5 separate regions of the Homo sapiens genome follow, and regions 1, 2, 4 and 5 are each linked to region 3. Evidence: fine-mapped expression QTL. A gene starts in region 3. Each other region holds a variant in brackets. All regions are shown on one strand. Distances are from middle to middle.

What was found.
Region 1: its variant is fine-mapped to the expression of TENM3 in breast (GTEx, PIP above 0.99).
Region 2: its variant is fine-mapped to the expression of TENM3 in skeletal muscle (GTEx, PIP 0.95).
Region 4: its variant is fine-mapped to the expression of TENM3 in testis (GTEx, PIP 0.96).
Region 5: its variant is fine-mapped to the expression of TENM3 in fibroblasts (GTEx, PIP above 0.99).

Annotation. Positions count from the first base shown.
Region 1 is chr4:182,766,610-182,771,715 of GRCh38, forward strand. All of the region lies in intron 22 of TENM3 (teneurin transmembrane protein 3), which reads left to right. LOC105377571 (a long non-coding RNA gene) reads right to left here and starts at 781. Exons shown (of 3, transcript XR_939528.3): 1 at 605-781. The variant A/C (reference allele first, on the strand shown) is at 2,232.
Region 2 is chr4:182,448,554-182,453,659 of GRCh38, forward strand. All of the region lies in intron 3 of TENM3 (teneurin transmembrane protein 3), which reads left to right. Among named protein-coding and RNA genes, the nearest start is that of TENM3, 210 kb to the left of the region's middle. RefSeq lists a silencer at 418-467. The variant A/C (reference allele first, on the strand shown) is at 2,081.
Region 3 is chr4:182,241,418-182,246,523 of GRCh38, forward strand. It overlaps TENM3 (teneurin transmembrane protein 3), which reads left to right and starts at 1,985. Exons shown (of 28, transcript NM_001080477.4): 1 at 1,985-2,059.
Region 4 is chr4:182,727,683-182,732,788 of GRCh38, forward strand. TENM3 (teneurin transmembrane protein 3) reads left to right here. Exons shown (of 28, transcript NM_001080477.4): 14 at 1,283-1,499; 15 at 2,518-2,637; 16 at 3,196-3,457. Among named protein-coding and RNA genes, the nearest start is that of DCTD, 190 kb to the right of the region's middle. The variant G/C (reference allele first, on the strand shown) is at 2,228.
Region 5 is chr4:181,635,515-181,640,620 of GRCh38, forward strand. It overlaps a transcript of TENM3 not described here. Among named protein-coding and RNA genes, the nearest start is that of TENM3-AS2, 190 kb to the right of the region's middle. The variant A/G (reference allele first, on the strand shown) is at 2,090.

The DNA of each region.
Region 1 (5,106 bases), 530 kb after region 3:
TGAAGAAAATGTCATTTCTGTGACCATCTATCACTATGCTCAGCGTTCAAAAGGGCTGGACCAGAGAGGAGTGGGGGAGGCTCTGCCCTTGTCTACATGCCTCTGAACTCATGTTAGCTGGGGGGTGTTTGAAAAAAAAAAGAATAGCAGCTTGACTGCAGACTGCTACCCTTTCTGGTTTTATGGAGCAAAGCACGGGTCAGAATTTGCCCCATCAGCAAGACCTCCTAATTAAATGCAGCAGCAACAAAGACATTCGCATTGGGGTTACCAACACCCACCCCATACAATTCTCACCCCTTTCTCATCAGGATCCCCTTAGCACCAAGACCAAACTCACGTAAAATAATACTTTCTTTTGTCTTCCTTCTTTTGCATTTTCCCTGCCATTTTTGATAATAGGTAGGTAGCAGGCAGGGGAGTATCAGGTGGTGCCATGATGTGGGCGTAGGCGACTGCTCTGTTTCCCTTGGTGATAGAAGCATTTTCTATCCAGAACCTGATTTTTGAGGATTTCTTACTACCTTGCTACAAATTATGATTTGTCTTTGAGATGATAATTGTTAAAATACATAAACCATAGGTTCCTTCTCAGAAGACTTACATGTAAAATCTTTCGCTGTTGCTGTTGCAAATCACATTATTGCCATTAAGATTCCGCATCAGCCCGCCGTTCCGGGTTCGCTGTTTGTGCACAAGTCCCTCCTCAGGAAGGACGATCAAGGAGTGATTTATGCCTACATGTTTAGTCATGACGGGGTTAGTAGTTGTGTTCCACTTCACCTCAACAACAGATACGAGGCTGTTACAAATTAGCAATGTGGGAAAAGTCTTGCGGTAACCGGTGACAAGATGGAGGGGATTGTTTGTTTTTGTTGTTGTTGGCCGTTAAACTATGGAAGGAAATTTGAGCCTACGCAACTCTGTTAGATGGAAGAAAAGATTCTCCCTCTGTATAAAATGTGTGTGTGTGTTTCTGGGTGGGTGTGTGTGTATATTACATACACACGTATATACACTACGTATACTATATATACACATCACACACATACACATTATAGTGAAAGTGGGAGAAAGATGGGTTAATTAAGTCCTTCATGTGAGTTCTTACTGGGATCCAAGTCTGAAAGCAAACCCGTGTAACCCACGAAGCAGCTCTCAAAAGCAGGCTAGCTCTGGGATGGCCCTGAGGAAGACCCGAGGAAGGCCCACTCATGAGGAAACTTGAACATTTATCCCATCTGGAGGCCTTCAGAATGAACCCAAACCAACATCTGCTGCTGTCTTGCCTGCCCAGAACAGGCTTGGTTTTGACCGGAGAAAGCAGTCACATTTCAGTGACTCTCACTCCGGCTTCCCTAGGTGAAAATGACAGAGGTGTGGGGAGGGCATTGCCGCCAGTATATACGTAACGACATATGCTGGTCTCGTGTTTGAGTCGGGCCAGTTCAGGGTCAGGCTGAATTCTGGACTGACAATCCACAGAAGGGATAAAGAGCACGTCACTCCGCAAAAGAGCCCACCTCCAGAGTTAGAATGACTTCTCTGCCCTGGTGTATGCGCTTCTCTAAAGCTGTGCTCTCATTTACACGTACTTTTCTCAAAAGCAGAAGATAATTTTAAAAACATAACCTTTGGTTAAAGAAGCCATTTTATGGGGAAGCACCAAAGACGATAAATACTCCTGTTGTCAAGTTGTAAAGAAAGTTTTCGAGAACTGCAAATTGTTTCCACTTGAATAAATTTGCAACATCAATAGGCTGTTGACATTGGGTTGGTAACAGTCTAAATCACTTGATTTTACTCTCAGATGAGCATCTACTGAAGATGTTTAAGTAGAAAGGTATTATAATCATGGTGTTTCAGATTGATTTGGTATCAGTGAATATGGGAAGAGGCAGATAGACCCATTTTAAAAGTCTAGGGAAGCTCTGGGAATAGAAAGATAAATATCTGAGAGACATTACCAAGGAAAAGGAGAAAGTTAGGAGCTTCACGTCAGGTTGAATATAGCATTCTCAGCTGAGAATGACTGAGGCTGTGATTCTCCGAGGCATTTGTCGATAATCCCACTACTTAGGAAACTTTAAAAAGAGATTTAAAAATATACCACAAAAGCTAAAACAGCAACTAGGCAAACATGCAATCCAAATTAAAGACCAACAAACAGATAAACATCAAATAAGGGCATCTCATCAGTGGAAGAGCGGTAGGTCACGGAGAGCCTGAGG[A/C]AGTTTGTCCTTTCCAGCGAGAGTCCTTTGTAAAGAGGGGTCAGGCAGGAGCAGGAAGGAATGTGCTGTGTTATGAATTTGAAACCATGAGGCTAAGGCCAGAGGAATGCAATGGGGGGCATGAAGTTGATGTTCTATTCAAATTCCCTGGAGCCTATTGCATTGTACATTCAAAAAGCTAATAAAGGAAAACTACCTCTCAAATCTATAAGCTGGGCAGGGCTAGTTCACCACTAAGGCCAAGCAACGTTCAGTTGAGTCACACAGTTGCAAATAAGCAAGAGAATCTGAATCCGCCCAGAGGCATATCTAGTTGTTGGAAAGGTCTTTTTAAGACCTGGAGTCAGAGTATTTCAGAGGCTAGCTGGACATTCGTGGGTGCATTGGTTTTCTTCTTTTGTGGAGGTAAAGAAGAGTTAGCCTGATGTTTATGGAAGTACCTGAGAGTCGTCTTTGAAGACATTTTCTTTCACTCCCTTAGTCAGAGTCCCCGGGTCATTTTTCTGATGTCTTTCCTTCATCTCGTTTTCATTTCTGTTGACATAGGTGCTAATCTGTGAAAAAGTTTTTACTCGTCCGCACTGAAATGAAAAAAAAAAAAATGATGTGGAGAATGTTTTCATCATAAAGCTTTATTCATTGCTTTTAAAGAGCAGTCCTAGGCCGGGCGTGGTGGCTCACGCCTGTAATCCCAGCACTTTGGGAGGCCGAGGCGGGAGGATCACGAGGTCAGGAGTTTGAGACCAGTCTGGCCAAGATGGTGAAACCCCGTCTCTACTAAAAATACACAAAAAAATTACAGAAACAGTGGCAGGCGCCTGTAATCCTAGCTACTCAGGAGGCTGCGGCAGGAGAATCGCTTGAACTTGGGAGGCGGAGGTTGCAGTGAGCCAAGATCGCACCACTGTACTCTAGCCTAGGCAACAGAGCAAGACTCTGTCTCAAAAAATAAATAAATACATAAATAAAGAACAGTCCTTTTGGCCGGGCGTGGTGGCTCACTCCTGTAATCTCAACACTTTAGGAGGCCGAGGCAGGTGGATCACCTGAGGACAGGAGTTTGAGACCAGCCTGACCAATATGGTGAAATCCCGTATCTACTAAAAAATACAAAAATTACCTGGGCGTGGTGGCGGGGGCCTCTAATCCTAGCTACTCAGGAGGCTGAGGGAGGAGGATTGCTTGAACCCAGGAGGCGGAGGTTGCAGTGAGCCGAGATCATGCCACTGCATTCCAGTCTGGGCGACAGAGTGAGACTTGTCTCGAAAAAAAAAAAAAAAAACAGTTCTTTTGAAAGAACTCACCCTACAGGTAGGTCCCGCCTCTCTTTGATATGTTTAAATGGCCTTATGAAACGATGGGAGTAACGGGTAGTAGTTTTTAATTTAAAAACCCTGTGTTGATCCCTGATTTTTTTCATGGTTTGTAAAATTGGCAAGTCAGGGAGCCACTCTCACCCCCACCTTAGGTTCCTCGTTAAAACCCCGCTTTCTTTAAACCTTCTTCAGCACCTCATGTTCTCCAGTGAGGAGATCCACCCAAGGCTCCCTTCCAGTATGACTCTGTGCTGGCCACTGTGCCTCAGCCGGGCCCCTGCACCCCGACACCTTCCTCCGCAGCCCTCCCAGCCCCACCCGGGCCCCTGCCTGACTGCCTGATCCCACAGTCTAGTTCACCACTAAGGCCAAGCAACATTCAGTTGAGCCACACAGTTGCAAATAAGCAGAGAATCTGCCCAGAGGCATATCTAGTTCTATTCCGGGACCTGGCCAGGTCCCCACCTGGGTGCAGCTCTTCCCCAGCTATGTCAGCGTGAACACATCTCCCCTTCTGCTCACTCTGGTGAGTGGTAGCCTCACAGGACACTCATTTGTAATAGTTAAATTGTCACGTATATGACCTCTGCTCACCCAGACTTCTCTGTTTTCACAATATCCTCACGCTTTAGCTTGCACGGAAAGGCTGTTCTGAAACTGTTGGGTGCCGGGTTAGATAGGAGCTCTGAGGACCCTGACACCGGAGCAGCCTTCCTTGTGCAAACACTTCAGCCCTGTTAGTGCCTGCACTTAGCTTCAGCTACTCCTTAGAAGGCACAAATTCAGAACTTCCAGGGCTAAACTGTTAAGCTGGGCCGCTAGGATCCCAGCTTAACCCTCTGTCATTCTAACTGTACTACCTACAAAGGTTACTTGTATTTTTATTTCCCAAAGAACCAAAGGCTAATAGGTGAGAGTCTGAACTTTCAGCTTCCTGGGCTGTATCTCCCTGTGCCGAGGATCCTGTGATATAGAATGCCTGCCCAGCAGGGAATGGAATGTGTGGTAAGCCAATGAAAGAGCAAAGTCAGAGGTTGCAGAAATGCTTTCTACAGGAGAAAGGTGAAGTTTCTGCTTCAGATTGAATGGGGCTAGAAAATATAAACCAGCAAAAGGGTCAAAAAAGGGCAGAGGAGAATGAATCAGCAAGCTGCTTGCAGGTGGTACAATCTATATAAAGCTAGAGTTCCCAGCTTTAAATCAGGCACTGTGATCTACAGGAGGGCTAGTGGGCCTGGGGTCAGCTGCACAAAAGTCCCAGTTATGGTCCAGTCAAGAGATAGCGTGAGAGCCAGATCAAATCAGCTAACCACGTCGTATTTTCATTTTCCGTCTCTGAAATGGGGGGGGGGGAAATAGTACAATACAGAATTCTCCTATGTAGAGGCATTCAAAAGGGCATTAATTTTTTTTAACCCGATAGCACGTTCTTCACATCATACCATGAGATGTGTAATCTGCTGCAAGACTTATGCCAAACTGAACGACAGAACTTTAGGCTGGTTTTGTCAATAATTCTGTAACTCTGCGCTGCTTGTTCTTAAATAAACCAGTGCGTG
Region 2 (5,106 bases), 210 kb after region 3:
CTTTTGTGAGCACGGGAAAGTAGCGCTGCCGGAGAACAGCTCTGAGGCGGGATCAAAAGCCGCCGGCGAAGCCCCGCCGAGGAACACGGCCGCTGCCCGGGGCGGCTCGCGAGCGTGCGTGTGTGGAGGGGAGGATGCCGCCCCGCGGGGTCTTCGGAGGGTGCCGGGAGCGGGTTCTCAGTGCAGTTCCCCCGTCTTCGCTGGGGGCACGGCTGCTCACAGGCCCCGGCCCGCGTGTGTGGAGCGGGGCGAGGGGGTGAGGCGAGGGGGTGAGGCGGCGGCCGAGCCGGGGCGCTGGGCGCGGGGCTGGCGGGAGGCGGCGGTGGCGGCCCGGCGCGAAGGGGTTAAGCGGCGCACCGCCCCCTCGGCGGCCGGGTGTAAACAGAGGAGCCTCAGCCTATCATGTCTGGCCGCCGCGCGCAGCCCGAGCCCGGAGCCAGGCGCTGTAACACGATACGCTCCAGACCCAGGCAACTTGGCAGCGCTGGGCTCGGTTCCTCACGGCCACAGCGAGGGCGCGCCGCGGCAAGGTGGGTGAGCGGCGGCGGCGGCGGCGGCCTGGGGCGGGCTGGCGGAGCGCGGCTCCCGGTGAGGCTCCCCGCGCGGCAGGGTCGCTCGCTCGCTCCGGGGACCGCGGCGGTGGCGGTGGCGGTGGTGGCGGCGGCGGCGGCGGCGGCTCCGCTCTTCTCCCTTGTGGTGTCGGAATGGGAGGAGGCTCGGCGCGGGTTTGAATCGGTGCGGAGGCAACATTCGCATCTGAGATGAGGTGGCTTTTTAACCCCTGAGGGACCACATTTAAGGATTTCGAAGAGATGGAGGCTGAACTTTCTCGATGACTCTTCGTCACCCGGAGTGGTGCAGGTAGCCGCGGGGAGAATGGAGTCTTTTGTTCCCGGTATTTTTAATTAGATGGATTTTTTTTTTATGAGTAGTGTACTGTCCTAATCCGTGAGGCAAAGCTGCCCTTTTGCCTGCATTCGGTGACTTTTACGAATTCGTTGGGAGCTAGTCTTAGCAGTAGTGATTTTGGATAATTTATGTCTGAAATGTGCAAAAATCGGCATTGAGCTTAAATTAATAAGCCCTTTGGTTCCATTAACTAAAATCCATCATACTAATTGCTTAATGGGGGAAAAGGTACAAAATAAGCTTGCTCATTAAAGAGCAGTCTTTTGCCTGCGAAATACGTAGTGTGATTTTTGTCAGGTTTAATAGAGCAGTCTCTCAGAGAAATTCAACTTTGCAGTTGTGCTTCGATGCAGGCTACTCCTGTGCAAAGATAGTTGGAGATGGTTTGGAAAAACTTGTGCTGTATCTGTTGAAGTAAAAATCATTTGCCATTGATGTGTGTAGTTCAATAAAACAAAGATCTGTGGCAGCTGTGGGAATGAGAAAGTCACATTTCCTCCCTCTCCTGTGCTGGCGTCTCTGTCTCTCTGGAATATCTTATAAATGATATATACAGCTATATGTGCCTGTGTCACAAAGTCATTCTGTCTTCTGAAAGCCTAATATAATCAAATTCAGTGCCTTAAGATGGTGTAGTTGAAGATTTGATCCCCTTCCACTAAAGTGGAAATACTTTCAGTAATTGAAAGCAGATTCACGTCTGGAGTTGTACAAGCCAAGGTTTTCATTTTTAAAATAAACCTTTTGTTCTCTGGTTTTAAATGTTTCAGAGAGCCATCCAAAGACCTCTGTGTGCTAATTGTTAAAGTAGTACTTAAGAAAGGATTGCAAATACCCAGAGAAGGCATTTAAGAAATCAGCTAACTTAACTAAGCCTCCCTCTCAGCCGAATATTTTAGTGCAGCATGTACTGGTCTGTGCCCCACATTGTTTTGTTTTTGTTTTTTTTTTCCAGCGGACTCCCAGGTATTAAAATGCGACTGCAGCGTTCAAAACACTCTAGGCAGAGGCCATCTGCTATAAGAGGTTAAAAAACTTGAGAAATGTTGGTGTTATCCCATTTTATACTGTGATTTACACAATGTGATGATGAATTTGAGATCCGCTATAAAGTATGTTTAATTTAAAGAGGTGGTGATTATACATTAACTGAGAGACTGAAACTCACAAA[A/C]ATATGAATGCAGGTGGTTCACCTGGTTCCTTTCTCTCATCTTCAGAGACTAAGTGTTAAAAAGCTTTAAAAAATTGGCTGTGAAAGACTGAAATTAGGGTACATTCTAGACAAAGAGGGAGTCACTTGATCTCTTATTAGCTGTGAAGATAGAGAAGAATAGTGCTGTATAAGAGCGTTACCTTCCTTCTTCAGGACATGATATCTAAAATGAGTTGTTTAATTATGAGGAAAAAGTTAAAAGAGTTGTACTTTTAACAATGACAGTTGACATCAGGAAAAGATAGAAAGGCGCATTCCAAATGTTTTTAATGACTAGTTTCTTAACCTGTTGTATTGATCATTAATAAGATGTGAATGGACGTATTTCCAGAGTATGACATGGCAGTTTGATTTCTTAGAAACTGCTCGGTAGCCCTGCATTTTACCTTGTTTTCTTGCCTTCTCAGTAGTTTATCATTGCAGCACATTATAGTAAATATGGCCATAATTCAAATGATATTCTTGTTATTATGTAAAAGCCCTCTTTTATAAAAAAATATTTAAAGTATTCAGCAGATTTTTAATTACCAAATAAAATCATACTAAATTTTGGCTGTTGCGTCACGTTTCTTAGATAGCAGTGGCCTAGTGTGGGGCATAATAGAATTTAATTCTTCTCGAAGATTTAGAAAAAGAAAAGCGACTTCACATGGACTCTTCTACTGATGTCTGAACACTGATTTTCAGTGTAATATCCTTGTCTAAACATTTAAACTAAAGCTTTTTGTGGCTTCTATTTACTGTTAGTTTTTATGTTCCTACATATTTTTACTTGGTTAAAGGGGTGCACAGGATCTTCTGGCATCTGGAATAATACATTCAATTTTTCACGGGACTCCTTTCTTTCATAACGTAGGCAAGTGGCAAAGGAGGCACTGTCTAAATACAGTGATCCTGATAATTAATGCTGTAAAATAGATTAAAATGCTGTATTTCAGGTATTCATTCCCTTAAAAGGGCCACCAGAACAGCGTTGCTAAGCACCCGTCACTACTGCAAGTAACAGAAAATGACCCAAATTAAAGAACCTGTTCTAAGCTGTATTCTTGCATTTTCTAAAGTTCATTTCAAAAGATTTAACAAGACTCATTCAATTAGTGGGGAAAAAAGATCTGTTTTCAGCTCTGATCAGCAATTAAGAGACTGGGCTTTGGAACATCAGTTCTTTATGTTTATAATTTATTTCGTTTGGTAGGCTTTACTTTAAACAATTGTGAATAAAGATTTTTAACAAGCCACCTTTCTAGCAATCCAGATGTAAATGCTAAATACAGGACAATATATTTGTTTTAAATTTTTATTAAAATGAGTTATTTTATAGTAACTTTGCCTCATTTAAAGAAAGTTTAAATTTCACACTAATATGATATATTAATGCTTTATTATGGATTTCTTACTCTGTGAAAATCTATATGTATACATGCACACATACAGACATATGTAGTTTAGATTAAAGGATGGCTGTAATTATTCTATCTTATCATAGATGTGAGTGCTTTAGCACCTAACACTTGAGAAATAGGATGTTCTTCCTTAAGGATATTTGAATGTTGTGGGAAAATGGTACCATGAAGGAGATAGAATGGTTTGGTGAAGAAAGTAAATAAATAAATTATTAGGAGCAGAAGTTTTCTTTTTAGATTTTTTTTTTGGCAGGGGACGGGGGGCGGGGGGGTGTCCAGTAAACTGTACCCTTCTGGGTTAGACCAGAACTTCTAAGTAGTTGTGGCCAAATGGTTAGATCTTTCAGTGGCCTGGTTCTTAGCTAACACAACTGCAGTCACAAATACAAGCTGCGGAACTTCCTGGCAGAGAGAAAGGAATGAAAGGATAAGGGCTATTAGAGGAGTGGGAGAGAGGAGCAGGCGGGTTCCCAAAGGTTCAGATTAGGATCATTAGTGAAATTTTTTGCTGGATCACTTTGATCTAGACAAATCTAAAGCATATAAATATGGATTTTAAGTTATGAATGATAAGTGCTATTTTGGCTATAATCACGTGAAGTGATTCATATCCAGAAACATTGACTGTTTTAAAGCCCAAGTAACACACTTCTTTATTCTAAAGAGATGTTTTGCATTAGAAATTTATTATGCTTAGATTTATCAATTTGGTATGACAGATAGTTCTAGCAATAGATAATGTGCAATAAATAAAAGTTGTATAACTCTTGTTGGAGTTTTGTCTGAGATGAAAAGTTATTCTAATACTCATTTTTGCATAAGGCCTTTTGACCTGAATTGAGTTCTCTTGTTGGGTATTTGGAATACCTTGTCTTCTGATATGTCCGAGTTTGGTTTTCCCTATAAAGAATAACAATGTGTGTACTATAGAGATTATTTTTATATGTGTATATATATATATATATGCATACATATATAGCAGGTTTGAAAGGATGGTATTTTCATATTTAAGAAACCAGTTGTTTTAGGATTGTTGTTTATACATTGATTTTTGTTACAGACCCAGCTCTTCAGTTGAAATCCTATGTATTTAAGTTTTGAAATGTCTACTCTTAATTTTTACTGTTGAAAGTAAAAATTTTACTATTGGCAGTTGTTTTGCAGGTTGAAAACCACTACCTTTTTGGTCTCCCAGAAACAGTTTATGCCACAGATGTTATGTTGGTACGATGGTAAATTCATTTTACAAGGGAGGAATAATAATTGAAAAGTACACGCAAATATTTGTGGGCATGTCACATTTAAATAATAGTTAAATTTGGGAAACGACATACTATAGTATTTAAAAGAAAAACAGAGTTTCTCTCTTAAATGTTATCATTCCCCTCACTTAATATTAAATAGTGTTTGACATAAATGTCTTGGTTTGTACATTGAGGAGGCAGAATATATTACAAAATGTAACAAAATGACTAATATGGGACTAACATAAAAAACACTTTAGTCTTTTGTGGTTATATATATTAACTTAAAATTTGTAAAAAATTAAAACGATGTGTGGAAGTTTCAGTGAGTTGTTTT
Region 3 (5,106 bases):
TGTGGCATTCCCCTCTGCTTCCTCTGGATCCTTGGCTCCATTAATTTTTTTCCACATTCTCCTATCTTCAGTCGCTTCCTTTTCCCTTTCTTTTTTCTTTCTTTTTTTTTTTTTTTTTGTGAGGCGGAGTCTTACTCTGTTGCTCTGTTGCTATGCTGCGATCTTGGCTCACTGCAACCTCCGCCTCTCAGGTTCAGGCCTCCTGCCTCAGCCTCCTGAGTAGCTGGGACTACAGGCATGTGCCACCATGCCCAGCTAATTTTTGTATTTTTAGTAGAGACGGGTTTTCCCATGTTGGTCAGGCTGGTCTTGAACTCCTGACCTCGTGATCCACCTGCCTCGGCCTCCCAAAGTGCTGGGATTACAGGCATGAGCCACTGGGCCCGGCTTTCCTTTTCCCTTTCTTTTTCCAGACAGGTAAAATGCACAAGGCTTGACCGTTCTTTTAAAAACGCTTCTCCACTGAAATGACTCTCCGTGGTCACAAATAACCTCTTTATTCCTGAAGCCAGTGGACCCTTTTCAGTTTTGCTCTCATCTGTTTTCTCCACTGTCAGCCACATGCCTTTTCCACCAATTTGCCTTCTTTTTTTTTTTCCTCTCTCTTTTTTTTTTTTTATTTTACTTTAAGTTCTAGGGTACATGTGCACAAGGTGCAGGTTTGTTACATATATATACATGTGCACAAGGTGCAGGTTTGTTACATATATATACATGTGCCATGTTGGTGTGCTGCACCCAATAACTCGTCATTTACATTAGGTATATCTCCTAATGCTATCCCTCCCCACTTCCCCCACCCCATGACAGGCCCCGGTGTGTAATGTTCCCCTTCCTGTGTCCAAGTGTTCTCATTGTTCAGTTCCCACCTATGAGTGAGAACATGCGGTGTTTGTTTTTTTTTCCTTGCAATAGTTTGCTGAGAATGATGGTTTCCAGCTTCATCCACATCCCTACAAAGGACATGAACTCATCCTTTTTTATGACTGCATAGTATTCCATGGTGTATATGTGCCACATTTTCTTAATCCAGTCAATTTGCCTTCTTAAAACTTCTTGGTGGCCCAGCACGGTGGCTCATGCTTATAACCCCAGCCCTTTGGGAGGCTGAGGTGGGTGAATTGCTTGAGCCCAGGAGTTTGAGACCAGCCTGGGCAACATGGTGAAAACCCGTCTCTACAAAAAATACAAAAATTAACCCGATGTGGTGGCACTTGCCTGTGGTTCCAGCTACCTGGGAGACTGAGGTGGGAGAATCACCTGAGCCTGGGAAGTCGAGGTTGCATTGAGCTGAGATTGCGCCAGTGCACTCCAGCCTGGGTGACAGACTGAGGCCCTGTCTCAAACAATAAAACTTACTGGTTTTCCTGCCTGATTGCTTTCTCTGAACTGTACCCTAGATCTTCCTACCGTGGTGGTTCAGATGAGAGATGATGGTAGCCTGTATGTGGGTAGTGCTTATCAGAGATGGAAATAAAATTGACAAGAGTTGATAATGTATTAGAAGCGGAGGCTAAGAGAGAGGTAAGCAAGATAATCACTAGGTTTCTGACTTGCATAATTGGGCGGTGATGTCATTCACTGAGATTAGAAGCATTCCAGGGCGACTATGTGGTAGAGAGGCTACAATGAATTCAACTTTAGATGTATTGGAGATGTGTTTAGAATGTCTTAAGGGTAAATGTCACATAGGCTTTTATTTATTTATTTATTTGAGACAGAGTTTCGCTCTTGTCGCTCAGGCTGGAGTGCAGTTGGGTGATCTTGGCGCATTGAGACTTCCACCTCCCGGGTTCAAGCAATTCCCCTGCCTCAGCCTCCTGAGTAGCTGGGATTACAGGCATGCACCACCACGCCCAGATAATTTTTGTATTTTTAGTAGAGGCGGGGTTTCACCATGTTGGCCAGGCTGGTCATGATTTCCTGACCTCAAGTGATCCGCCCACCTCGGCCTCTCAAAGTGCTGTGATTACAGGCATGAGCCATCGCACCTGGCCATGAAGGCTTTTAGATGGGTCTGGAGCTTGGAGGAGAAGTCTGAACTAAGGATAAACTAAAGGTAAGTTGCTGAGTCATCTGTAGAGAGGTGGGAATTGAGGGCACGGATGAGACAGCCTAGAAGAAAAGGAGGAGAAGATGAGAAGAGAGTATCGAGGTATTGGAAACTGGGGAGGGCAGACAAGTCTAAAAAGGAGACTGGAAAAAAGTAGTTGAAGATGGAGAGGGCAAATCTGGGCAGTGTTGGGACACGGAAGCTGAGGAAAAGAGCAGTTCAAGATGCTTGAAATGAACACACCAAAAATACTGTGAACTATTCAGCACGTCCTTGTTTTATAAGTAAAATTCATAGTCACATCAGCGAAATAATTTTAAATGTATGTCTGTTGACTTAAATATTGGTTTTCTTTTGTGACTGAGGTTCCAGTACTTAGGAAAGGAAATGAAAGAGAGGCAGGGCACTCAGGGCTGACTGTCTTCTCAAAGTGCTAACTGATAGACTCTTCCAAGAATGGAATCATTTGTGTTTTCTTTTTTTTTTTTTTTTTTTTTTTTTGAGACGGAATCTCGCTCTGTCGCCCAGGCTGGAGTGCAGTGGCGTGACCTCGGCTCACTGCAAGCTCCGCCTCCCGGGTTCACGCCATTCTCCTGCCTCAGCCTCCCGAGTAGCTGGGACTACAGGCGCCCGCCACCACGCCCGGCTAATTTTTTGTATTTTTAGTAGAGACGGGGTTTCACCATTTTAGCCGGGATGGTCTCGATCTCCTGACCTCGTGATCCGCCCGCCTCGGCCTCCCAAAGTGCTGGGATTACAGGCGTGAGCCACCGCGCCCGGCCTCATTTGTGTTTTCTATTAAAACATATAACCCAGGGTATTAGACCACCATGGTGGTCACGGCGATCACAAAATATTTTTAACTGGTTTGCTGTGAGCTGATTTAGTGTTCTGAAATTTTATTATCTTGACTGGTAGAATTATTGGAACCAGCCATACATGTTAGAGTGATTGACAGCTACTTCTGATGAGGCTTTTATTGGATCTCAGGCAGCCTGCAAGTCACTGTCCTTTGCATTCAGATGCATTTATTTCCACAGCCTCCAGGGTAGCTAATGTTATTTTTCCTTCCCATTCCGAAATTTTAAGATGCCTCAGCTTTAGCCTGGCTCCTAAACTGATGGACAAGAGGAGAATATGAAGAGGAAGACGGGTCTCCTGGAATCCTCAGTTCCCAGGCTCTTCCCTCCAGTGGTCCAGGAACACTTTTGTCCCTGTCATAGATTTGTGTAATTCTCATGATGTGTAACATATGGAAAGAAAAACCAAGTTTTGTGTAGCCTAATAGATAGCTGTTTAGGAAACCATTCCAACTGTCCAGCTTTCTGAGAGTTTGCAAATATCACTTTACTTCTTACATTAATAGAGCCTCATGCAAATCAAATCATGTTGAACTTTATTAGCTATGCTTGATGTTATTTATGTTCTAATTAAATTAATGAGAATCTTGCATTTCTTCACAAAATTAAATTTCTAGAGTCTCTTTTTATTGTAATGTCTACATTCCATAATCAATGAATGCTTTTAATCCTCTGCAGTGATACTTTCTAGTGTTTTGGGAATGAAGCAAAGGCTTCAGAAACATTCAAAACAATCGAGTGTTAGGCTGTGCTATTGTTTGTTTAATGGGCAGAGGTCACTTGCTATGGGAATACTGAGGGTCTGCATGCTGGAATCATTCTCTTTTTGCCCAGGATGGGATCATTGGGTGAGTTTACTTAATCCATGGGCTTTGTTTCCCAAGACTGTGTCAGGGAACAAGACACAATTGTTTCCAGCCCCAGAGTCCTCTTGAGAGAGTGGCTCCAGCAACTTTGCTCTGTCTCATGTGATGTAGCATCCTCCGGCATCATTTAGAAAAGTGAAAGAGCAAGTAGAAAGGAATCTATCTGATCTTCATTTCTTTGCTGTTGTTGTTGATTTGTGTCACACATTGCTTCTCAGGTGGCCCCAAGAGTAAATCAGAAATTCCAATTGAGATTGCAAATTTTGTTTTAATTCTCTGTTGCTTTTCCAGCAATCAGTGCTTTCCTTTAAATTCTGTCTCGTCTCCTAAATGAAGGCAGCGTCGTGGCCCAGTTTGGGTCTCTGTTTAGCAACTGTGGTCTGTTTGAACTGAGGCAGTCCACATGTTACTTCCATTCTTTAGATTAATGTGATGACCGTAGTCCCTGCCAGAATCTTTTGGAACCAGTTATCCCAGGATATTGACATGTGACACGGCCATAGGACTGAAAACTTCCTCTCTTCCAGGGCCAGCCACAGGAGAGAGAAAGGGATTAAGAGGCTACTGTTGTGTCAATGCTGCAACTTGCTTTAGGACTCTGAGCTGGTTTCTTAACTTTTCCGTTGATGAGCAATAAAACCAGTAGAACAATAACTGCCTTCAGTGATTTTACAGATTTGTGTTAGTTAATAAATATAGGAATTTAGGGAAAGCTGTTTCTGATTTATATTTGATACCGATGTAACATTTTATTGGCGGGCGCTCCTGCTGGATCCTCACTCTGTGGTTAACAGTGACTCCTTTTCTGGTAGCACTCCCTGGCTCTGCAAGTCACGGGAAATAGCGTAAGAGCTCACTTGTCTCTTATGTTGAACAAACAGAGGCAGCAACCGCTATGGCAGAGGGTGGCACCTTCTGGCTATGTGTTTTCCTAAGTGGCCTGAAATGAAACTCCTAGAAGTTGTCTCATTGATAAAATGAATGCAATCTAGGTACCACTAATTATCTAACCCCGGGTCATCAGCAGGATTTACCACCACTGCCAGCAGCCCCAAGGCATAGGGGAAGAAAGAATTTTTTAAAAAGAAGTCATGGAAGCAACACAGAGAGAAAAACAAAGCAGCGCTTATGAATGAGATTCGCTATGAGCCCCCACCCCCGCCCCTCAGGAATAACATTTTAGATAAGCAGTGGACACGAAGCAGGCCCCGCTCTGAAAGAGCACAGGAGGTAGAAATGTCTTCCTTTTCTAGGATATAGATGGTGTGGGTATCAAAGCCATTGTTGACAGGAAGGAGGTGGTGTTGGATAAGAGACTAAAAATAGA
Region 4 (5,106 bases), 490 kb after region 3:
CTATAGGTCAATTTTTCATGATGGATTTCTTATTATTTCTAATATTATGGCTGATTTACATTTACCACATTTTAATTAATACCTCCATTTTAGTGAGTGTATTCTAGGAGTCCAGGCTCTTGTTTAAAATTTGGGAAATGCCTGATTTTATCTGGAACACACTTAACCTTCCTTAGAAGAACTTTTTTTTTTTTTTTTGAGACAGTTTTGCTCTGTTGCCCAGGCTGGAGTGCAGTGGTACGATCTCAGCTCACTACAACCTCTGCCTCCCAGGTTCAAGTGATTCTCCTGCCTCAGCCTCCTGAGTAGCTGGGACAACAGGCACCTGTCACCCCGCCTGGCTAATTTTAGAGATGGGGTTTCACCATGTTGGCCAGGCTGGTCTCGAACTCCTGACCTCAGGTGATATGCCCACCTCAGCCTCCCAGAGTGCTGGGATTACAAGCATGAGCCACTGCACCGGCCAGAAGAGCTATTTTATTGAAAGGTGGTTGGCTCATCTCATCCATTTTATATTGATTTGTGTTTGCTACACTTCATAAACTTTCACTTTCTGACCCTCTCCCAAATTTTAGAGCTTCGTCCTACATAGATTCCTATTTATCATACACACTTACTGTGCTAACTCCTAGTGCATTTTCTCTAAAATATAGAATATTTGAGTAGCTTTACTTACAACTAATCCATATTCCTTCATACTCCTACCAATAGATTGTTCTAATCACTAATTTTTTTATTTCTTACTCAGAACAAACATTATATGATTCTTTTCAGCCATCTCTAATCCAAATATTTACTCTCTATGAAGGCAGATGCAAGTAGATTTATGTGTCACATACTGATGGGGATATGTTCTGAGATAGTTGCTGTTAGGCAATTTCATCATGGTAGAGCATCATGGCATGTACTTACGCAAATCTAGATGGCACAGCCTACTGCACTCCTAGGCTACCCATCTGTACAGCATGTTACTCTACTGAATACTGAGGCAGTTGTAACACAGTGGTATTTGTGTATCTAAACCTAGAAAAGGTACCGTAAAAATACAGCATTATTATCTATGGGACCACTCTTTTATATATGGTCTGTCATTATGTGGCATGTGACTATTGTATTTCTATTTCTTCTGGTTTCAAAAAGTATGCCTCATAGAAATTACTATCAGATAGTCGGGAGAAATCACTTGATGTGAAAAAAAAAAAAACAGTCAAGAAACAAAACTGATTCTACATTATGGCATCAAAAGGAAAATTCTCTTACTGGGGAACATTTCTCTCTACAGATGGACTCATTGACTGCATGGATCCCGATTGCTGCCTACAGAGTTCCTGCCAGAATCAGCCCTATTGTCGGGGACTGCCGGATCCTCAGGACATCATTAGCCAAAGCCTTCAATCGCCTTCTCAGCAAGCTGCCAAATCCTTTTATGATCGAATCAGTTTCCTTATAGGATCTGATAGCACCCATGTTATACCTGGAGAAAGTCCTTTCAATAAGAGGTTAATGCTTCTTTTCCATATGTAGATTTGTAATGATGTTATCAACAGTTACATACACTTATGTGAAATACTCATGACTGTGAACCTGAGGAAAGTGCTGTTTTTTAAATACAGTTTTTCCTCTTTCTGCAGATTCTTCACCAAACTTTGTATTTCAAGCATTTTTGACACAGTTCACATACTTTGTCAATTTCAGTACCTGAGACATAACAGGACATTATATTAAAGAGTCAATAAATCTTCATTTAACTAGTTGATTTTGTTAGCACAGTTGGAAATGTTTCAAAAGAAGCAGTGAAAAGACCCCAAAAGGCAGAACAGAAGTGCACTTTTTTTTTTTTAGCTGAGCTCACTAAATAATATAAATTATGAATGAATGTAATGGAACTGCTGACGGCATGGCAGTAAGATTGCATAAGCTGTTTGACTGGTGCTTTGCAGAGCAGTAATGACCTGAAAGTAAAGCAGTAAGTGAAAGCAGGTGTCTTGTGTCTCACTGAGCAAAAGAAGATGATTTACACCAGAACTCCTGGGTCTGCAGTAATTTAACAGCATTAATGCAGTTATAGCCAGCAGTTGATTCAAAGTTGCTGTACAAATGTTCCTTATCGCCCCCTTAAATCTTATACTTCTTGGTCCCTGAAGATTTACTGATTGCCTCAGAATTAATTGGAAAGTCTACTTTTCTTCATGTGAGCACCATATATATGACTTATGAAAAAAGCACA[G/C]AGTTTATCATTTTAAAAATTCATCTCTAAATTATTAGTCTTGATAACGCTCCAAAAAACAGATTGCCACAAATTAAAACCCAGGATAAACACAAGCCCTTTAGAGAATATGCGTTACACTGAATTAAAAGGGACATTGTCTTGGGAGTATTTCAGGTCTGATTTTTGTGAATAACGATGGATTGCATAGCATAGTGTTATTTTATCCTTAGGTTGAATTATCTATAAATCATGATAATGTTGGCCTGAAAAGACAGATGTTCATTCTCATTCTTCTGCTTTTCCAACAGCCTTGCATCTGTCATCAGAGGCCAAGTACTGACTGCTGATGGAACTCCACTTATTGGAGTAAATGTCTCGTTTTTCCATTACCCAGAATATGGATATACTATTACCCGCCAGGACGGAATGTGAGTTAGTCCCATCACACTATCTCTGAAGGATTTGAAATATAAAAACTAGACCTTCCTGTACCACTGTCATGTTTGACTGTCCTTTTAAATATGGAAATGCAGCAACTTTTTAGACTCTACAAACTTGTGACAGTACATATGGCAGAGATTTAAAGTCATATACTCACATACTTCTTCAAAAGTTGATTTTATTTTCTAAGGCATGGTAATACTGTAGTTTTGTAGGAGAATGCTCTTTGTCTCAGCAGATGTATGTTGAAATCTTTAGGGGTAATATTTTATAATGTCTGTAACTTGAGCTCAGATGGTTCCGAGAAAAGAGTCAATGGAAAGCAAATTTGGAAAAAAAAATTGGTGAACTTGGTGAATACACATAGGACACAAGAGTATTTATTGTATAACTCTTGGAATATTCCCATAGATCTGAAAATATTTCATATAAAAGTTGGGAGAAAAAGTTGATTTTCTTTATAAAGCATATTAACTTAAGGAGGTGTGTATTGGTAGTTATGTGGGATCCAGACAATTCACTAAGCATACCTTGTTCTTTCTTAGGTTTGACTTGGTGGCAAATGGTGGGGCCTCTCTAACTTTGGTATTTGAACGATCCCCATTCCTCACTCAGTATCATACTGTGTGGATTCCATGGAATGTCTTTTATGTGATGGATACCCTAGTCATGAAGAAAGAAGAGAATGACATTCCCAGCTGTGATCTGAGTGGATTCGTGAGGCCAAATCCCATCATTGTGTCATCACCTTTATCCACCTTTTTCAGATCTTCTCCTGAAGACAGTCCCATCATTCCCGAAACACAGGTAAAATATTCTCACAGGCAGTACTTGTAAATACAAGATCTTCAGATCATGTTTTGCCAGAGAATCTTAAAAATAGGTTATAGAGTCCGGGCACGGTGGCTCACTCCTGTAATCCCAGCGCTTTGGGAGGCCGAGGTGGGCAGATCATGAGGTCAGGAGTTCAAGACCAGCCTGGCCAACATAGTGAAACCCCATCTGTACTAAAAATACAAAAAAAAATTAGCCGGGCATGGTGATGGGCACCTGTAGTCCCAGCTACTTGGGAGGCTGAGGCAGGAGAATCGCTTGAACCCAGGAGGCAGAGGTTGCAGTGAGCCGAGATCACACACTACTGCACTCCAGCCTGGGTGACACAGTGAGACCCTGTCTCAAAAAAAGACAAAAACAAAACCAAAAAAACCCACGGATTATAGAATTCCAGTGCTATCTTTAAATAATTCTATAAGACCCTGTCTCAAAAAAAGACAAAAACAAAACCAAAAAAAACCACGGATTATAGAATTCCAGTGCTATCTTTAAATAATTCTATAGAATGAATATATAGTGGGTGTTGGGGTGTGTGTGTGTGTGTGTGTGTGTGTGTGTGTGTGTGTGTGTGTCCTACAGTAGACATTGTTATAGTAGGATATCTAGTTATTTCTTTTTTCTTTTTTTTTTTTTGAGACGGAGTCTCGCTCTGTCGCCCAGGCTGGAGTGCAGTGGCACGATCTCGGCTCACTGCAAGCTCCACCTCCCGGGTTCACGCCATTCTCCCGCCTCAGACTCCTGAGTAGCTGAGACTACAGGCGACTGCCACCAAGCCAAGCTAATTTTTTGTATTTTTAGTAGAGGCAGGGTTTCATCATGTTGGCCAGGATGGTCTCCATCTCCTGACCTCGTGATCCGCCCACCTTGACCTCCCAAAGTGCTGGGATTACAGGTGTGAGCCACCGCACCCGGCCTTTCTAGTTATTTCTTAAAGATCTACTCAAACAAAATACTTTTTCTTCAGGATATACCTTATATATTTATTAATAATAGTCAAATGAAACTGTAGCTTAAACTCAATCACTAATAATGTCTTTGTTCATTTATTTATTTATTGAAAAAAAACTTTAGTGCCTAAATGTACCTGACAGCTTGACTGACATTGTACCAAGTGCTACTGACACCACTCACTATTGCACATGGCTATTAGCCTCAATAACTTACTGTTTAATTATTGTTGTCAGTAAAAAGTGTTTTGGAAAAGGTAGTTTTGACAGAAAATATTCATTAATATAACTTTTTAAGAAATAGCCATGCATTCCCCATTCGTTTCATCTACTGAAATAGCTGAGGATTGTGTTCCGTCCCACATGTTTCCAGTTAGAAATAACTTTCAGATCTTAAAAGTAGGATGTTAGGTGTAATAATAATGGATTTTGCCAGGCGGCGTGGCTCACTACTATAATTCCAGCACTTTGGGAGGCCAAGGCAGGAGGATGGATCGAGCCCAGGAATTTGAGACCAACCTGAGCAACATGACAAAACCCTGTCTCTACAAAATATACAAAAAATTAGCCAGGCGTGGTGGCATGCACCTGTAGTCCTAGCTACTCAGGATGCAGAGGTGGGAGGATCACTTCAGCCCAGAGAGGTCAAGGCTGCATGAGCCATGAGTGCCACTG
Region 5 (5,106 bases), 610 kb before region 3:
AGTGGGGAGTGTGGGTTCCACCATGCTGATCCCCAGGAAACCTGTCAGAGGATCTCTTCCATAAGACAGTGGTTGTCAAGCTGGGCTCAGAGAGCCACCAAGCTACCTTGGGAACTTCTATGGGCTGAGAGGGTGGAGTGGAGAGGAACAGATAGGACAGAGGCCTACCACTTCCGCTTTCAACCTAGGGTGATGCTTCTCCTTTTACATGTTTACATATTAGCTTTCTTTGTAGGATTTCCTGGGAAGAAAGGGTGCAAGAGCTTTAAAAAAATTGTTGCAGAGCACAGTAATAGCATAGGCTTCTGGAGGGAGACGGGGCTTCCTCACATAGATCAAATCAAGAGAGGAGGCCACAGTCAGGAATTGAACAGACATGGCCATTCTTGTGGCAACTGGGGGGAAATTACATCGTGGGCTCCCTCTTCCCTGCTAACATATAGATACACATATGCCATATATAAATATACATAAACATACATGTATATATATGTACACACATGTGGAAGGAAAGAGAGAGAAACTTCAGTTTTTGTTTTTTGGTTTTTTTTGAGACAGTTTCGCTCTGTCATTCAGGCTGGAGTGCAATGATGTGATCTCAGCTCACTACAACCTCCACATCCCAGATTCAGGCGATTCTCCTATCTCAGCCTCCCGAGTAGCTGGGACTACAGGTGCGTGCCACCACATCCGGCTAATTTTGTATTTTTAGTAGAGACAGGGTTTCACCATATTGGCCAGGATGGTCTTGATCTCTTGAACTCGTGATCCACCCGCCTCGGCCTCCCAAAGTGTTGGGATTACAGGTGTGAGCCACCGCCCATGGCCATTTCTTGCTCTTCAGGCCTTCAGCTGATTGGAAGAAGCCCACCCACATTAGAGAGGGTAATAATCTGCTTTATTTAAAATCAAATGATTGCACATGTTAGTCACATCCACAAAATACCTTCATAACAACCTCTAGACTAGTGTTTGGCCAAATAACAGACACCACATTCTAGCTGATCTTTGACACACAAAGCAAACCATCACTGTGTCATGACAGGTTCCTCTCTTCCTCTCACGTGCCCAGCCAATCCATCAGCAGTTACTCTTGGCGCTACCTTCTTGATGTACCCACACTCCACCCACTTCTCCCCACCTCTGCTGCAGCGCCTCAGTGCAAGCGCCCATCGTGTCTTACTGGATTATTGGAATAGCATCTTAACAGTTCTTCTTTTCTCTGCTTTTCCCTCTTCGGTTTATCCTCAACGCAGCGACCAAAGTAATCCTGTTAGCTAAACGGATCATGTCACTGCTCTTCTGTTTAGAGCCCCTGATGGCTTCCCGTCACCCTTCGATTAAAAACCAAAGTACTTACAGTGCTATCATGCCCTGCATCCTTTACACTTCCCCATGACCTCTCTGACCTCAGCCCCTACCCCTCTGGTTTACACCACTCCAGCCATTTCGCTTCGCTTGATGTTCCCGAGAAACTTCCACTTACACACACTGCACATTCGGTTTCCTCTTTCTAAAAAGGCTTTCCCGCTAGATACCCATATGCCTTGCTCTCTGCCGCCTTCAGGTCTCCAAGTGAAGGCCACCTTCCCATGAAGACCTTCTCTGACCACACTACAAGATTGCGAAGCCCCTTCTTCCTCAGCAACTCCTATCCTTTTTTCCTCTGCAAAATTAGTTATAATTATTCTATAGTTTCTATAACAACAACAAAAAAAACTTCAGTGTCTTATCAAAATAGAAATGTATTTCTTATTTATGTGAGTGTTCCTGATTCACGAGCAACTTTCCTCCATGTGGTGACTAAGAAACAAAACACGTCTTTTGGCTCCCCCAGCAACTCCGGGCTGTGGAGTCCAGTGTGTTCAGCACATGGGTGGGGAATGAGTAGGTGGAAATTTATACCCACTCCTTAAGCCAGAAAATGACACACGTCACTTCTATGCACATGACAGTGGCAAAACTCGTCAAATGTTCCTATCCAGACGTGAAGGAGACCTGGAAATATAGTCCCTGGAGGAGCCCGTGTTTTTCCAGTAACATCTTCACACTGTGGGAGGAAAAGCCAAAACTTTGGTGGAACACTGAC[A/G]AGGCTCCACCCTCCTGACCTAATTACCTCCGAAAGGCCCTGCCTCCTCCTACAATCACAGTAGGGGTTAGAATCTCAACATACAAATGTGAGAGGGACACAGACATTGTCTGTAGCAAGCACTTACCAATTGTAACATGTTACATTTGTACTCATTTATTGTTTTGTTGTTGTCCGTCACTCCCACTAAAATCTATGGCCCGTGAGACATGCATTTTTGTTCATTTCAGTCATTGGTACATTCTCAGAGCCTAGAACAGAAATAAATAATTTCTGAGTGAACAAATGAGTAAATGGGTAGATGGATGAGTTGCTGGATGGGTGCATAGGAATGACAGGGTATATCCTGCCCAGCTGTAGTTCATCAGTAGAAGGGGTTTGGACCACACGCAGGCATTTTCTTGGCAAAGAGGAAGGGGAAAAGTAAGATGTGAGACCGTCTACAGGACACACTTGCCCTTGGTGACTTTATCCTATTCCCTTTACCTAGTAATTGAGTTTTATTACTATGTAACTTTTAAAAATTGGTTTATTCAAAATCAAGACATGGTTATCATTCTACTTAAACTGGTTGTTGGTAATAGAACCTACTTATCCCACACAGACTGACATAGTGCCTAATTGAGAGACACACAGAAAATGTTGGCCAAATAAGTAATTAAATCACGAATAAGTGGGCATCAGATTAGGTTTCCTCCAGCGTAAGCACTGGGACTCATTCATTCAATCTTCAGCAAGTATGTACAGATAAGGCCGTGAAAGTTGTGAAGTTGTGGCTGCATAGAAAAATACTTAATGCCCCCCTGTGTTTGGGGATCACCCAGTATTTCTTTTAAGAAGTATAAAAATTATTAATGTCAACTTTTCCATGTTCCTGCTCTCACCAACATAGAATGTTCCATCTGCAGAACAAATCCAAGTCAGAGGTTGAAATCCTGAAGTCCAAAGATCATTAGTCTGTCTGAACCTTTTCACTGCTTTAGAACCTTAAAAATTCATTATGAGAGCAGAGAGATTTGCTCTTTTTGCTACTGTACTCCATTTTCTCTGTAGTAAAAATGGAAACTTTATTGGAAAACATAATACATCAATTGTAATGATCATCATAGTTTGAGATGGTGGGTTTTTTTAAAATGTTACTTTCCTTAATAATCACTATGTATAAAAACTGCAAATATATATATTCCAGAGTTCCTTTAAATCAGCAGAGATGCACCTGCATATTTTGGTCTCATATATGAAAAAGGGCAATTAGCTTCTAAATTAACACATCCGTGTATTAATAACTGACATTTAGTAGTAGCCCAAAGGTCATATTGAAAGACTGTTCATGCATGAAGCTGCAGAACTTATTCTAATCATGCTGTACCTAATTGATTCACAGATGATCTAACTGGACAAATTGTTAAATAAAAGGGTGGCCTAGAATTCATTTTGTTTTGCATTTTTTTTGACTGTTTGGGAATACTTCAAGTGTATTCCTGTCATCACTTGTCCTTGTTTAGTCCATGAATCTGACATAGCAGAAAGTTCTTCTGGACTCTGCTTGGATATCAAGAGCAAAAAGCTATGGGAAATGATGGACTAAGAAATGAAATGGCACAGCAAAAATGTAACCAGGCATAATAACCCAAATGAAATAGCAAGCATATCATGGCATATTGACTTAAGAGATATTTTATTTATTTGCTGATTATTTCTTTTGTATGAATGCATCAAGCCCCCTGAACCCTAGTTAGTTATACAAATGAGCACCTCATTGTGACCATCCACATGCAGCCAAGGCAGCTCCACTCCCTGCAGCACTATGTCACCATCATCCCATGACAGGGTCCGGTTAATATCCCCACCACTGGCCAGCTGTGGTGGCTCACGCCTGTAATCCCAGCACTTTGGGAGGCCGAGGCGGGTGGATCACCTGAGGTCAGGAGTTTGAGACCAGCCTGGCCAACACAGTGAAACCCCGTCTCTACTAAAAATACAAAAATTGGCCAGGCATGGTGGCAGGCCCCTGTGATCCCAGCTACTTGGGAGGCTGAGGCCGGAGAATCGCTTGAACCCAGGAGGCAGAGGTTGCAGTGGGCCGAGATCACGCCAGTGTACTCCAGCCTGGGGGACAAGAGCAAGACTTATTCTCAAAATAAATAAATAAATCCCCACCACCCTCGGAGTGGTGCTCTTCCCTTAGCTACTGTGACACTACACACTCCTGATTTTGTTCCTACTTCTCGGCCAAGGAGATCCACCCCAACAGATGAACTCCTGCCAGTAAGGCTGAGGGCTGCACAGCCCCTGCGTGTGTGGGCGTATGGGCTGGATAAGGACTGTGCCAAGTGCCGTTTACAATGCCGTGTCGCTTTGCCATTTATTTTGTGATGCAGTGAATACATTTATCTCCATAATAATTGGCAAAAGGTACCCAAGTGTATCAGCCACGTCCTGGTGGTACACAGACAGCACTCACCAAAAGGAGAAGCTGAAGACAGTTGAATGAACAGGTAGGCAGGGACATCAAGAAGATGAAGGGGCTTTAGTGAGTTCTGTGGACCAACAGCAGCATCACCTGGGAAATTGATAGAAATGCCAATTCTCAGTCCCTACTCCAGACCTACTGAGCCTGAGACTCTGGGGATAGAATGCAGTAATCTGTGCATCAACAAGCTCTCCAGGTGATTCTGATTGCAAGTTAGAGAACCACTGTAATAATGGATCATGGCACATCCTAACAAAAGAAGCAACTGGAAAGTGCAAAGGTAAAACAAAATTGGTCAAAGAAATTTAGTTTCTTCCAGGTTTGACTCACAATTGCCCATCACTGCTTTCATGATGTAGGGATTGTTATAGTGCTTTCCTGCAGGCATCTATTTACTTACAAGCCATCCTTTTCCTTATACCTCCTCTGCCACGTCTCTGAAGCTGTCTCAAATGATGTAAAATTTCCAACACAACACCCTTTATCATACTTATGCATGATTACCAGCAGGCCCAGCATTTTCCCTTGCTGCACTGGGTATTTT